3 linked regions of the Homo sapiens genome follow. The protein of the gene in region 3 interacts with the protein of the main gene of each other region in a pairwise test. Each region holds a gene or a part of one and is shown on either strand. Other genes may lie near its edges.

Region 1 (3,649 bases), on a different chromosome or scaffold from region 3:
TTGTGATGTGCAGCAGAGGTGCACTATGCATACTTCCCATTTCATCACACAGAACATTCTCAACACATGTACAGGAGGATTCAAACTAATCCTTTTACTGCTTCATCAAGGACACTCTTAAATGAAACTGCCTTTTTATTTTTAACTGTGAGTGCATGCAATCTAAAAAACACAACAAGAAGCACAATTTAGTGCCAAGGCCTTTTTTTTTTTTTCTTGAGATGGAGTCTCACTCCAGTCATTCAGGCTGGAGTGTGATGGTGTGATCTCGGCTCACTGCAACCCCTGCCTCCCAGGTTCAAGCGATTCTCATGCCTCAGCCTCCCGAGTAGCCGCGACTACAAGTGCCTACCACCTAGCTTGGCTAATTTTTGTATTTTTAGCCTGACCATGTTGGCCAGGCTGGCCTCAAATTCCTGACCTCAGGTGGTCTGCCCACCTCGGCCTTCCAAAATGCTGGGATTACAGGTGTGAGCCACCACACCCAGCCTGCCAAGGCCTCGATTAGTGATCAGGTGCCAGTAGTATTAGCTGCCATTGCTGTTGTACCATCAGTACAAATGTCCAAACAGTAAAAAAGGCAGATAGCCTCTTAGTGTTGTTGTGAAGGAGTTTTGACCTTCTGACCTGCTCAAAGAGTCTTGAGGATCCCCCCAAGTTCCATGTACAACACTTTAAGAACTTCTTAGGGGCCAGTGAGGTCCTCACACTTGTAATCCCAGCAGTTTGGGAGGCTGAGGTGGGAGGATCGCCTGAGGACAGGAGTTCAAGACTAACCTGGGCAATATAGTGGGGCTCCATCTCTACAAAAAATTTACAAAATTAGCCAGGTGTAGTGGTGCATGTGCCTGCGGTCCCAGCTACTCGAGATGCTGAGGTGGGAGGGTTGCTTGAGCCCAGGAGTTTGAGGCTGCAGTGAGCTGTGGTCGTACCACTGCACTCCAGCCTGGGCAACAGAGCAAGACCCTGTCTCTAAAAAATAAAATAATCTCTTAGGAAATTCATTTAACATTTCTGCCTCAATTTCATCATCATAATATCTACCTTACAAGGGGTTGCTGTGAAAATTACCGAGATAGAACGTTGAGGTGCCTGGCACATAGTATGCTGATTACATGTGAGTTTCCTTCCCCTGCCCTCCCCTCTGTGCCCACTCTGATGGATCTAGTGAACTCCTACTGACTCTTCAATACCCAGCACGGTTGTCTCTCCTCTGGTAAGACTCCCCTGACTCTCCCAAAAGAGGTAGCTGATCTCTCTTTGGTGCTCCCTAACCATGCTGTGACCACATGTGCAGGACAGCCGTGTAGCAGTGTGCTTCTAGCTCTGAACCCCCAACTGGGCTGGGAGTTTCTGGCGGCAAACACCATGCCTTACTCACATTACTAACTGTAACCCTAGTCTATAGCGAGGTGGCCAGTAATCGGGTGCTGAATGAATGGGTCCTTTTCTTTCCACGTTGACTGCAAGTTGACTTCCTCACAAGAGGATAGAAGCGCTGTTTCCAGGGAACGCCCCAAGACTTCATTCATGGTGTGGCTGTTTGTCAGCGGAGGGAGGAAGAAAGGAGGCGCCATGTGGGGGAAGGGTCCTGGCTGAACCACTTTGAATTCTGTGTGGCCCATATTGGTGTGGCTCCAGCAGGAGTCAGACACACCGCTTTGGAGTCACTCAACTAACAGCCACTACTATGTGACCTTAGGGAGGACTCATAACCTCTAGGCCTTGCTCCTCAGCAATCAGTGGATCATAATAAAAGTGTCTGCTGCACAGGGTTCTGAGGGGGCCTGAGATGCAAGCTACGTGTCCACTTCCCCTCCCCTATCACAGATCAGCTTCCTGTGACCTACAGGAGTAACATGGAAAATTCCATCTGCAGCCTCTCATGAGTTGCACACTTGGAAACTCATTTCCTGGTGCTCCAGGCTTCCTTAACTGAGCGATATCTGTGTGCCAAGCCCTGTGCTAAATATCTTTTAATCATTTTCCACTTCCTACCTTCCCTGTAGATGAGGAGAATAAAAGCTCTCAATGAGATTTCACTAAGTCCTGGTTAGAAGGGCCAACTCTGGGACCCTCTGGGTAACATGAAGGAAGGGGTCACTCATGGGTGCTGCAGCCCCAAAGAGGAGAAAGAAAGAAACGAAACATTCACTAAGCACAATCACGTGATTTACAGGCACCAAGAAAAGGGAAGGCACATTGATAATTAGGAAACTGTTAAGAAAATAGTTCCTCATCATGGATTTTGGCCTGCCCTGTTCCTGATTATTAATTTAGGCCTTGAGAGATGTGGCTTTATGCATGTAATTTAACAGAAGTTGAAGATACAGGAGAGCTCACAGCTTATGCTGGGTGAGGAAAGGGGGCCATGCCCTCTTCCCAAACTGCTCTGAGGAACTGGGGACCAGCAACAGGTGTAAGATTCATGATGAAACCCTGAGGGTTCCTCTAGACTGAGTGACTCAGCCAGTTACAAAAAGACAAATAGTGTGTGATTCCATTTATATGAGGTACCTAGGGTAGTCAAAATCGGCTGGGCATGGTTGCTCACGCCTGTAATCCCAGCACTTTGGGAGGTGGATGCGGGTGGATCACCTGAGGTCAGGAGTTCCAGACCAGCCTGACCAACATGGAGAAACCCTGTCTCTACTAAAAATACAAAATTAGCCAGGCGTGGTGGCACATGCCTGTAATCCCAGCTACTCGGGAGGCTGAGGGAAGAGAATCACTCGAACCCGGGAGGCAGAGGTTGTGGTGAGCCAAGATCACACCATTGCTCTCCAGCCTGGGCAACAAGAGAAAAGCTCTGTCTCAAAAAAAAAAAAAAAAAAAAAAAAATCATACAGAAAGTAGAACTGCAATTACCAGGGGCGGTGAGGGAGGGGAATAGGGAGTTAGTGTTCAATGGGTATAGAGTTTCAGCTGGGGAGGATGACAAGTTCTGGAGATGGTGATAACTGCACAATGATTAATGCCACAGAACTGTATACTTAAAAATGGCTAAGATGGTACATTTCATGTTATGTGCATTTTACCACAATTTTTTTTAAGTCCAGGTGGGAAATGGAATGGACACAGGTGGTGGGCCTGAGGTCTACTGGCCAGTATCGGCTTGGCGAATGGGAAGCAGGAGGAGCAGAAGATGTCTCCCAGTCTCGGATGTCCCTCCTAGAGAGGGGACAGAGAGAAGGAGAGGAGTTGCGGTGTCTCAGACTCCCAGTGAGAGAGACAGAGAGACAGCTGCATCTGCCCATGAGTCAGGCAACAGGAGTTACTCTCAGAAGCTGCAGGGGGCTTTGGATCCTGCAGCAGCCTAGATGCAGACTCTTGCTTATCCCCCAGATATTTATTGAGGGCTTACTTTGTGCAGGGCGTTTCTTGACGGCCCCATTAGAATACACATAAGACCAAGAAAGTGACAGAAATTCAAAGAATCAGCAGAAAACCCAAAGGCAGCAGCAAGTGAAAGGAGAAAAGATGGCCCTAGCGTGGGCTGAAGGAAGGCCTGTATTACCTCTTGGTACAGACACCCCCAAACAAAAAGCAGAGGTAGATGGTCATTCTGACACCTGCCCTGCCATGGTGTTCTCAGGCCTGGACACCCCAAGAACTGGGCAGCTGTCTCCCCTATCATCAGCAGAGCACT
Region 2 (3,649 bases), on a different chromosome or scaffold from region 3:
GGGACAAAAGGAAAAACACACAAAAAAAGGAAGGAGATTCCTTTGAAACACATACTCCCTTGCTCCAAACTTATAACAATTTTTTTTTCTTTTTAAATTCACTACACAAACTCTGTGATTAGGTAAGAAAAGCGACGAGGGCTCTCCTTGCCTTTTTTTAAACCATTAAAGTAAAATCCATAATTTTCTACAGAGTACAACACAAGTTCACACAAAAAAGACATTTTCTTTTGCAAATCAAAACAGGAAAGAAAGGAAAAGCTCAAACAAGATAAAGGAAAAGCATTTCTACGGCTGAATCACGACTGAGTTGATTGAATCCCGTTGTTGCTGCAGAACAGACTGTGCGTTTGGTCATAGTGGCAATTTTTTTTTCTCTTCACATTGTGAAATCACTTTACATTGTTTTCTAGTAGAAAAGGCAAAAAACTGTACAAAACCCCTAGTGTTAAATACAACGTTTGTACCAATAAAAAACTCACACAGGTTTGTCTCCAAAATGTAAAGTTTCTTTTTTTTTTTCTTTTTAAATTATTCACAAAAAGCAGCTGGAAATCAGAAAGGCAGCTGCCGCTCCAGGGTCTCAAATCCATTAAAACCACCACAGAACAATTAAAACAATCAGAGAGAGAAAAGGAAAAGGAAACAACGTCCAACATTTGGCATTTGGTTTTATCCACAGGTTTTCCCAGAGCTCCTCTTGGAATTGAAAGCAAAATATATTGGCAAACACTGCTTCTCAATACACAGGAAGGGGAGCCTCAGTGCCTCCTGCCAACAGAGGCGGCTCTGTGCAGTCAGACTGTGGGGTGCACAGCAGTCTCTCAGGCTGGGGTTTCTGGCCTCTTTCCATCCAATCACCCCTTCCAGGAAATTCAGCAGCCTACCAGACACTGGGCCTCTGCCTGGCTGCCCTTTCCCCCAGGCAGAGCGGCCTTGGGCATAATACCAGGCAACCTGCCAGCCCCAGAGCAGAAACCCTGCTGGGATCCCTTCCTTCATCAACCTTGGTGTGGAGGATGCTCAATAGCGCTTCCACCTCCCCCTCCCCAGCCCCTAGCTACATCTCTCCACCCTTCCCTGGACAGTCCTACTTCCCAGCTCACCCACCCACCAGCAGCTTAAGTCTGGGTGGGATCTATCATCAGCTCCTCCCCCTGTAACCTCTTCCCTCCACAGATCCACCCTGTGCTCCTCTCCTCACCTCTCCCCCTCCACTCACATTCTTACTCAAGTCTCCAAGACCCTGAGGCTGGATGGTGCCACAAGAGAGGAGGGTCAGTTTCCCTCAGGGAACCAAAAAACTGGCTTGCTTGGCACCCAGGGACAGTAGCTGTTTGGCTCTCCACCCAATTAAAAAAACAAATCCCTGCCCTTTCCCCCACCCCACTAGCTAAGCAAGAGCAGAGCTGTGATGAAGAGCCAGTGCCGGGTGGCTGGTGCCCAGGGCTGTAAACAGTGTGAAGACTGTAGTATTGTGCTTGTCACCTAGGAAAAGCGCCAGCAGGTGAATTGCCGCTTGGTGTGCAGATGGCCTCCTACGGGTGATTGGGAGCGCCCTCCTTCCTCCAGGTGCTCACTGCCCCTAATGTGCTAAATAAGCCTCTTACCCACCTGCTGCCACCTTCTAGGCTCTACCTCTGCTTCTCGTGTCTCTCCAGGCCCCCTTCCCACCCTCTCTGAGCAAAGCAGCCAGCCTCCCGGAAGCCCCGGTAAGACCTGGAGGCCACACGAAGTGACAGTCTAAGTGCACAGGCAAACGCTCTAAGGGCAATAGAGGAGAAAGTTGCCACTTCAAAATTAAACAATACAATCTTGAAAAAAATAATCAACCCTACAACAATTTAAAACAGCTTCTTTGAAACCCTTTTAAATCGATCAGTTTTTGCACAAACTATAGAAAACAGAGAGGTGAAGGTGATATATACGAAGGTGTGAAGAAACAGCAGGAAACATGCAAAACTTTTTTCTGGGCATAATCTTAGTAGGAAAGGAAAAAATTCAAAACAAAAACACAAAAACAATACAAAAACAAAAACAACAACAAAAAAATCAAAGCATCACATTTTGCTGTGGAGACTGTTGGAACAAGCATGGGGCTGAGGGGAAGGGGCAGGCGGGATATCCAGGACTCCCCAGAGTCGCTCCAGGGAAGAACCACAAAAGAAAAAGAAAAAGAAAAAGGGCTGGCTGGGGCCCAAAGTGCAGCCTGCGGTCAAAAAGGAAAGGGGGTTCAGGTGCTCTCCGCAGTTGAGAACTCAGAAGAAAAACAAAAGAAAGAACAATACATGCGGTCTCCTCAAGCCCCACAGACTGTATCAGCAAAATGTGCTCAGGAGCCTCAGAGGTTTTAGTGACATCTTTTATTTCATTGTTTACTTCAAAGTTGTCTTTAAAACTAAGCACACAGAGAAACAAAGCCTAGAAACGGACTGGCTGTGTGTTCACAGAAATACAAACACCACGCGGTATGTGCTAGTAGGGCTGCTCTGAAGACAATTACAAAGAATTGGAATCACAAAATCAAGTGGTTATCTTATGAAGTTCTAGAAAAATAGATTTTTTTTATATTCAAATGCAAGTTTAAATATTTCCCCTTCAGCAGTCGTTCTAGCAAAACCAATTTGGCAGCACAAAAGGAAAAAAAAAGGAAAGAAAAAAAGAAAAAAAAACGAAGAAAGAAACAAACATAATAAAAATACACATCAGCATCAAAGGTCAACACAAGGTCAAAGGTGAGAGTTCAAGCATCAGAGAAGCTGAAGAGACAGGGATTTGGACGATGTACTTGACGCCACATCGACATGCTTTAGGCACAACGATGAACAAACGGCAGGAATCTAGAAAAAAAAACAAACCAGAAAGAGGGAGACCCACTGAGTTACACAGAGCAATACATCCAAACAAAGAGAGAGAGAACAGGAACACTCACTGTGTGTACAGCCCTGAAATGAGGTGGGCGGGCAGGGGTTGGGTAATGACAGGGAACTTTTGCACATGCTAACAATGGACACAGGGAAAAGTCAAAAAGGACATGGAGGACACCAAGAACACATCTAATTGCCAGAGACAGAAGGGAACCTAAGGCTTGGATTTTCCATGAAGCACCCAACTCCTAAGAGAAGGTCTCCAGGGGAGCAGAGCCTCAGCCTCTCTCCCCACTCCCTGGTCACAACCCAAGGGGAAGCAGAAGATGCTGGCTGGGGTGGGGAAAATTTTTCAGGGAAGAGGACCAGAATTTCTGCTCAATCTTATGGGGATGGCCCTTTGTTCCCAGAAATCCAAGCTCTTAGCTTCCATCCAGGCCCTGGCCACTCAAGGGGAACCCAGGAGACAGTGGTCTGGCTGCATTCAAGGCAAATCAATTTCATGATGTAACCCAAGTAAGAAACAAAACTACAGCAGAAAACACATTGTAAGTGAAACCTTCACACAACAGAAAAGGATTGCTTAAGACTTGACAGCGAGTCTCCACTCTGAGCTGAGCCCTTTCACACGTGAGACTTGTAGGGGAGCAGCTTCTTCACAAAACCATCTTTGGCCTGGGGAAAGAACTGTGCTCAAGGGCAGTGCTACTGCTGTGCTAACTCACTGGGCAGGGGGAGGAGAGAACAGAGAAGTGCATGGTCTCACCAGCTGGCTGCTCAAG
Region 3 (3,649 bases):
TTTTTTTAACTAGCCAGGCATCATGATGTGCACCTATAGTCCCGGGTACTTGGGAGGCTGAGGCAGGAGGATCCCTTGAACCCAGGAATTCAAGGCAGCAGTGAGCTATGATCGAGCCACTGTACTCTAGCCTGGGTGACAAAGCAAGACCTCATCTCTAAATAAATAAATAAATAAATAAATAATGTTTTTAATGGGGTTATGTGGTTTCCTGAAAAATTGCCTGCTGGGGCAACAAGGGGTCCTCACTCCCCAGGCAGCAGTCTGACACCTAGCTCCCCAGCTCCCCAGCTCCCCGGGCTGCCTCAGTCACATGCCTGCCTGCACCAGGAGGCAGGCTGGGCCCCTGCCACAGATCCAGAATAGAAAAGGCAGCCCTGGAGACCTCTTAAGCAGCCACCCCCTCCACACACCCCTTGGCAGCTTCCAGGGTGGCTTTATTCTCCTCTCTCTCCTGACGAGGCGGTGGCAGCAGAGACAGCAGCAGCTTTGGCACCAGGACCTGTCCCGTACACTGCAGCCACATGCACTTGGCCCTCCTAAAGGATGCCACCTGCTAAAAATAGCACCAGCACATGCTTGGCCAGGTGAGCCACACCAAAGCCAAAGGACAAAGCAGGGAGGTTATTTGCAGCACGGCCTTTTCTCCCAGAGACAGCTAAAGGCACAGCTGAGTGTGGGTCTCCCTCCAAGGCAGTTCAGGAAAGTGAGAATCACTCCTGCTCCTTTTTCTTGGGAGTGGCAGAAAGGAGGGGCAAGAAGGAGTGTACAGAAGACTGAACTGTCCTTCAGATCTGTCATCGACCCAACCTCACAAAGGCACATCCAGGCCCAGGCCAGAGAAGGGATGGGGGCTGGGGCTGTGCTTGAAAAGATCTTACTGCCTCCTCTAATCAGGAGGCCAGCTACTGCTGGGTGACAGCCTTTGGAGGGCCAGGAGATGGTCTGTGACCTCCAAGTGAGGTCTGACAGGTGTCGGGAAATTAGTGACTTCAGGATTGTCTTTTTCAATCAGCTCAGTCTTCAGAGCAGTTTCCCTGAGCCCTCAGGCACAGCTTTTTTTATTCATAGTCATTACTTGTGCATTTCAAAAGCACCCGATGGTTGCATAATTCTGATGATAAAATATGGCTTTGGAAAGACAAGAGAGTTAAGAGTAGGATCCTGTACTTCAGTTTCCCATAAAATGAAGATGTTCTGTAATAGGGAATATCTCCCTCACAGAGTTGTAACGAGGCTGAACACACTTAAGTCAGACTCCATATGTGGGATCAATGATTTTAATCTTTGTAAAACCCAGTTTAGTTTCCTGAATGAGGATGTGGTGATAAAGGGGCAGTAAATAAGCAACAACCAATGAGCATGGGGGGCGGCAGGGGCAGAGGAGGAGGTGGGGAGCACGCCCCAGCCCAGGTCCAAGCCAGTCCAGCCCTTGCTGTGTCCAGGGACCAGTTTACTCTACTCGGATCTTGTTTCTTCACCCACAAACTAATCACTGTACTAACCTCATAGGGCTGACAGAGAATAAAAATGACACAGAAAAAAAAAAGCCACTAATATGCCAGTAGGTGCTCATCAGTAAGTGTCCTTTATGCTGCCTGGCTCCAAGAAAAGAGATCTCACATTATATATACCAAAGGTCAATCTAGCAGGGTTCAAACAAAGCACACCCAGGACTAGAAGAGGGGGCATCTGGAAACAAAGAACTCCCCACCCCTGCCACAACAGAACACGTTAGCATCCACGCTGTGGCCCCACTCTCCCCCAACACCTTCTGTGAAGAATGGCCCCTAACATTTAGGTGGACTGGAAACAGCAGAATGAAAACACAACCTCGTTTAAGAGAAGGGCCGCACTGAGATCTGTAGGAAGTCATCAGGTGGGTGAAGGACCAAGTAACAATATGTTGACATCTGACATTTGGAGACCAAGGACAAACCAGCAGGGATCTTTATGATAATAAACGGCTTCAAACCAAAAGGGCTTTCTAAGGGCTTAGCATCTGGACCTTTGCTTCACGCTCCTGTCCCCAGGTCCTTTCTGAAGGTCCTCACTCAAACTGTTTCAAAACTGTTCGTCCACTCCCAACTGGCAGACTAGAACTCACTTGTAGTATGCCATGGAGACAACCAGTAGATAATTTGTCACCAAAGCTGTTGGGTTTATGGACTCTGGAAGACTAAGCTCAAACATGTTATGCTTTAGAGATTTACAAGTTGAGACAATTAAGCTTTTAGAGTTGGAGAAAAAAAAACTTTCTAGGCCGGCGCTGTCCAACAAAACTTTCTTCGATTATGGAAAATGTTCTTGACCTGTACTGACCAGGACGGCAGCCACTAGCTACACGAGGCCACTGAGAACCTGAAATGTGGCTAATGTCACTAAGAAATTTTTTTAAAAATACTTTGAAAAGTTTAATTAGTCACACAGCTAGCAGCTACCCTACAGACAAGGCAGCTCTAAACTCCCCACACCCAGGACAAATTTAGGCAAATAAAGCTATCTTTAAAAATAAAAAATATTTAGAACAGTAGCACACCTTAGAGCTAAGAACTTGAGATGAACAGTGAGTTGTTTTTTTTCCCCTTAAGTCTTTGACATGTACTACCCATTGAGCTGTGCTCCCCAGCCCAAACACATCACTCCAGTGGCCCCTGGGCACGTTTGGTCTAACTCCAAGGCTCCCAGGACCATAATCTGAATACTGATAATTTTGACCAAACCTCTTTTAGCCACTGAATAAACCAAGATCTGGAAGGCCAACCAGCCTGCCTAGAATCACCGCCAGGTTTCAGCTCTGAGAGCTGCAGCAAGTCCCAGGCTCTTGTCAGCTAAGCCCAGCAGTGAAACAAGCCTCATCAGCCCTAGGTTATACATATTTTTACTTCCAGGACTCACCTCAGGGCCCTTCTTTGCTCCCAAGTGCAACTGGGCCTTAGTGACACCTGGCTCGGTGAACACAACCAGCCACCATTACAGAACAGGGAACACAATGTTTACCACTGACTGCTGCAAACTATCAAACCAAGCCGGAAAAACAACCAGATGGTGAAGACCCGGACAGAATGTGGACAAGGCTGCACCATTTAGTAAAATGAAAAAGTTAAGGCAAAGGACACCTTGAAAGCTATTTATTGCTGGAAAGCTAGTTCTCAGAATGCTGAATGATAACACACACAATGTTAACAATCTACTTAGAAAGCAGCAGAAAGATTAGGAGAAAAGCCCAGGGATTTAAGAATATTCCTTGGTTCTTCTCACAAAAGCCATCCAGAGGACCTAGTTTTAACTCCACACCCACGCTTCCTAGTTCCTCTACCCCTCAATTTGAATTTGTGTGACAGCCACTGAAACAATCCAGAATGACCTCCAGCTTCACCCTCACTGTTCTCAGAGGTGTGAGGATTAAAGGATTAGTGTGCTCATAACTCACCTAGCACAGTAACTATCAAGAAAGAGGCATCCTCTCAAGTTTAGCTCCCAGCTCCCCCACTACCTGTTTCTCCAGCCAGACTCTGTCCTACTTCAAACATGCTCACTGATGATGTTTTCCACAGCCCAAGCTTCAAATTAGGTACCAAGGCCAGGAGGTTCCTTCAGTGGGATGCCACATGTGATGGGAACTTAATGTTAAATGATCATAAAAGTG

Evidence for each region.
Region 1: the proteins of AKAP1 (region 3) and DYSF interact in a two-hybrid assay, tested with the Homo sapiens proteins (one large-scale study listed by BioGRID and IntAct).
Region 2: the proteins of AKAP1 (region 3) and CELF1 interact in a two-hybrid assay, tested with the Homo sapiens proteins (one large-scale study listed by IntAct).

The regions. Positions count from the first base shown.
Region 1 is NC_000002.12:71,473,111-71,476,759, reverse strand, and holds part of DYSF (dysferlin), read right to left. Parts: intron 1-3,649. UniProt on the Homo sapiens protein: Key calcium ion sensor involved in the Ca(2+)-triggered synaptic vesicle-plasma membrane fusion.
Region 2 is NC_000011.10:47,466,052-47,469,700, forward strand, and holds part of CELF1 (CUGBP Elav-like family member 1), read right to left. Parts: 3' UTR 1-3,649. UniProt on the Homo sapiens protein: RNA-binding protein implicated in the regulation of several post-transcriptional events. Involved in pre-mRNA alternative splicing, mRNA translation and stability.
Region 3 is NC_000017.11:57,088,216-57,091,864, reverse strand, and holds part of AKAP1 (A-kinase anchor protein 1, mitochondrial precursor), read right to left. Parts: intron 1-3,649.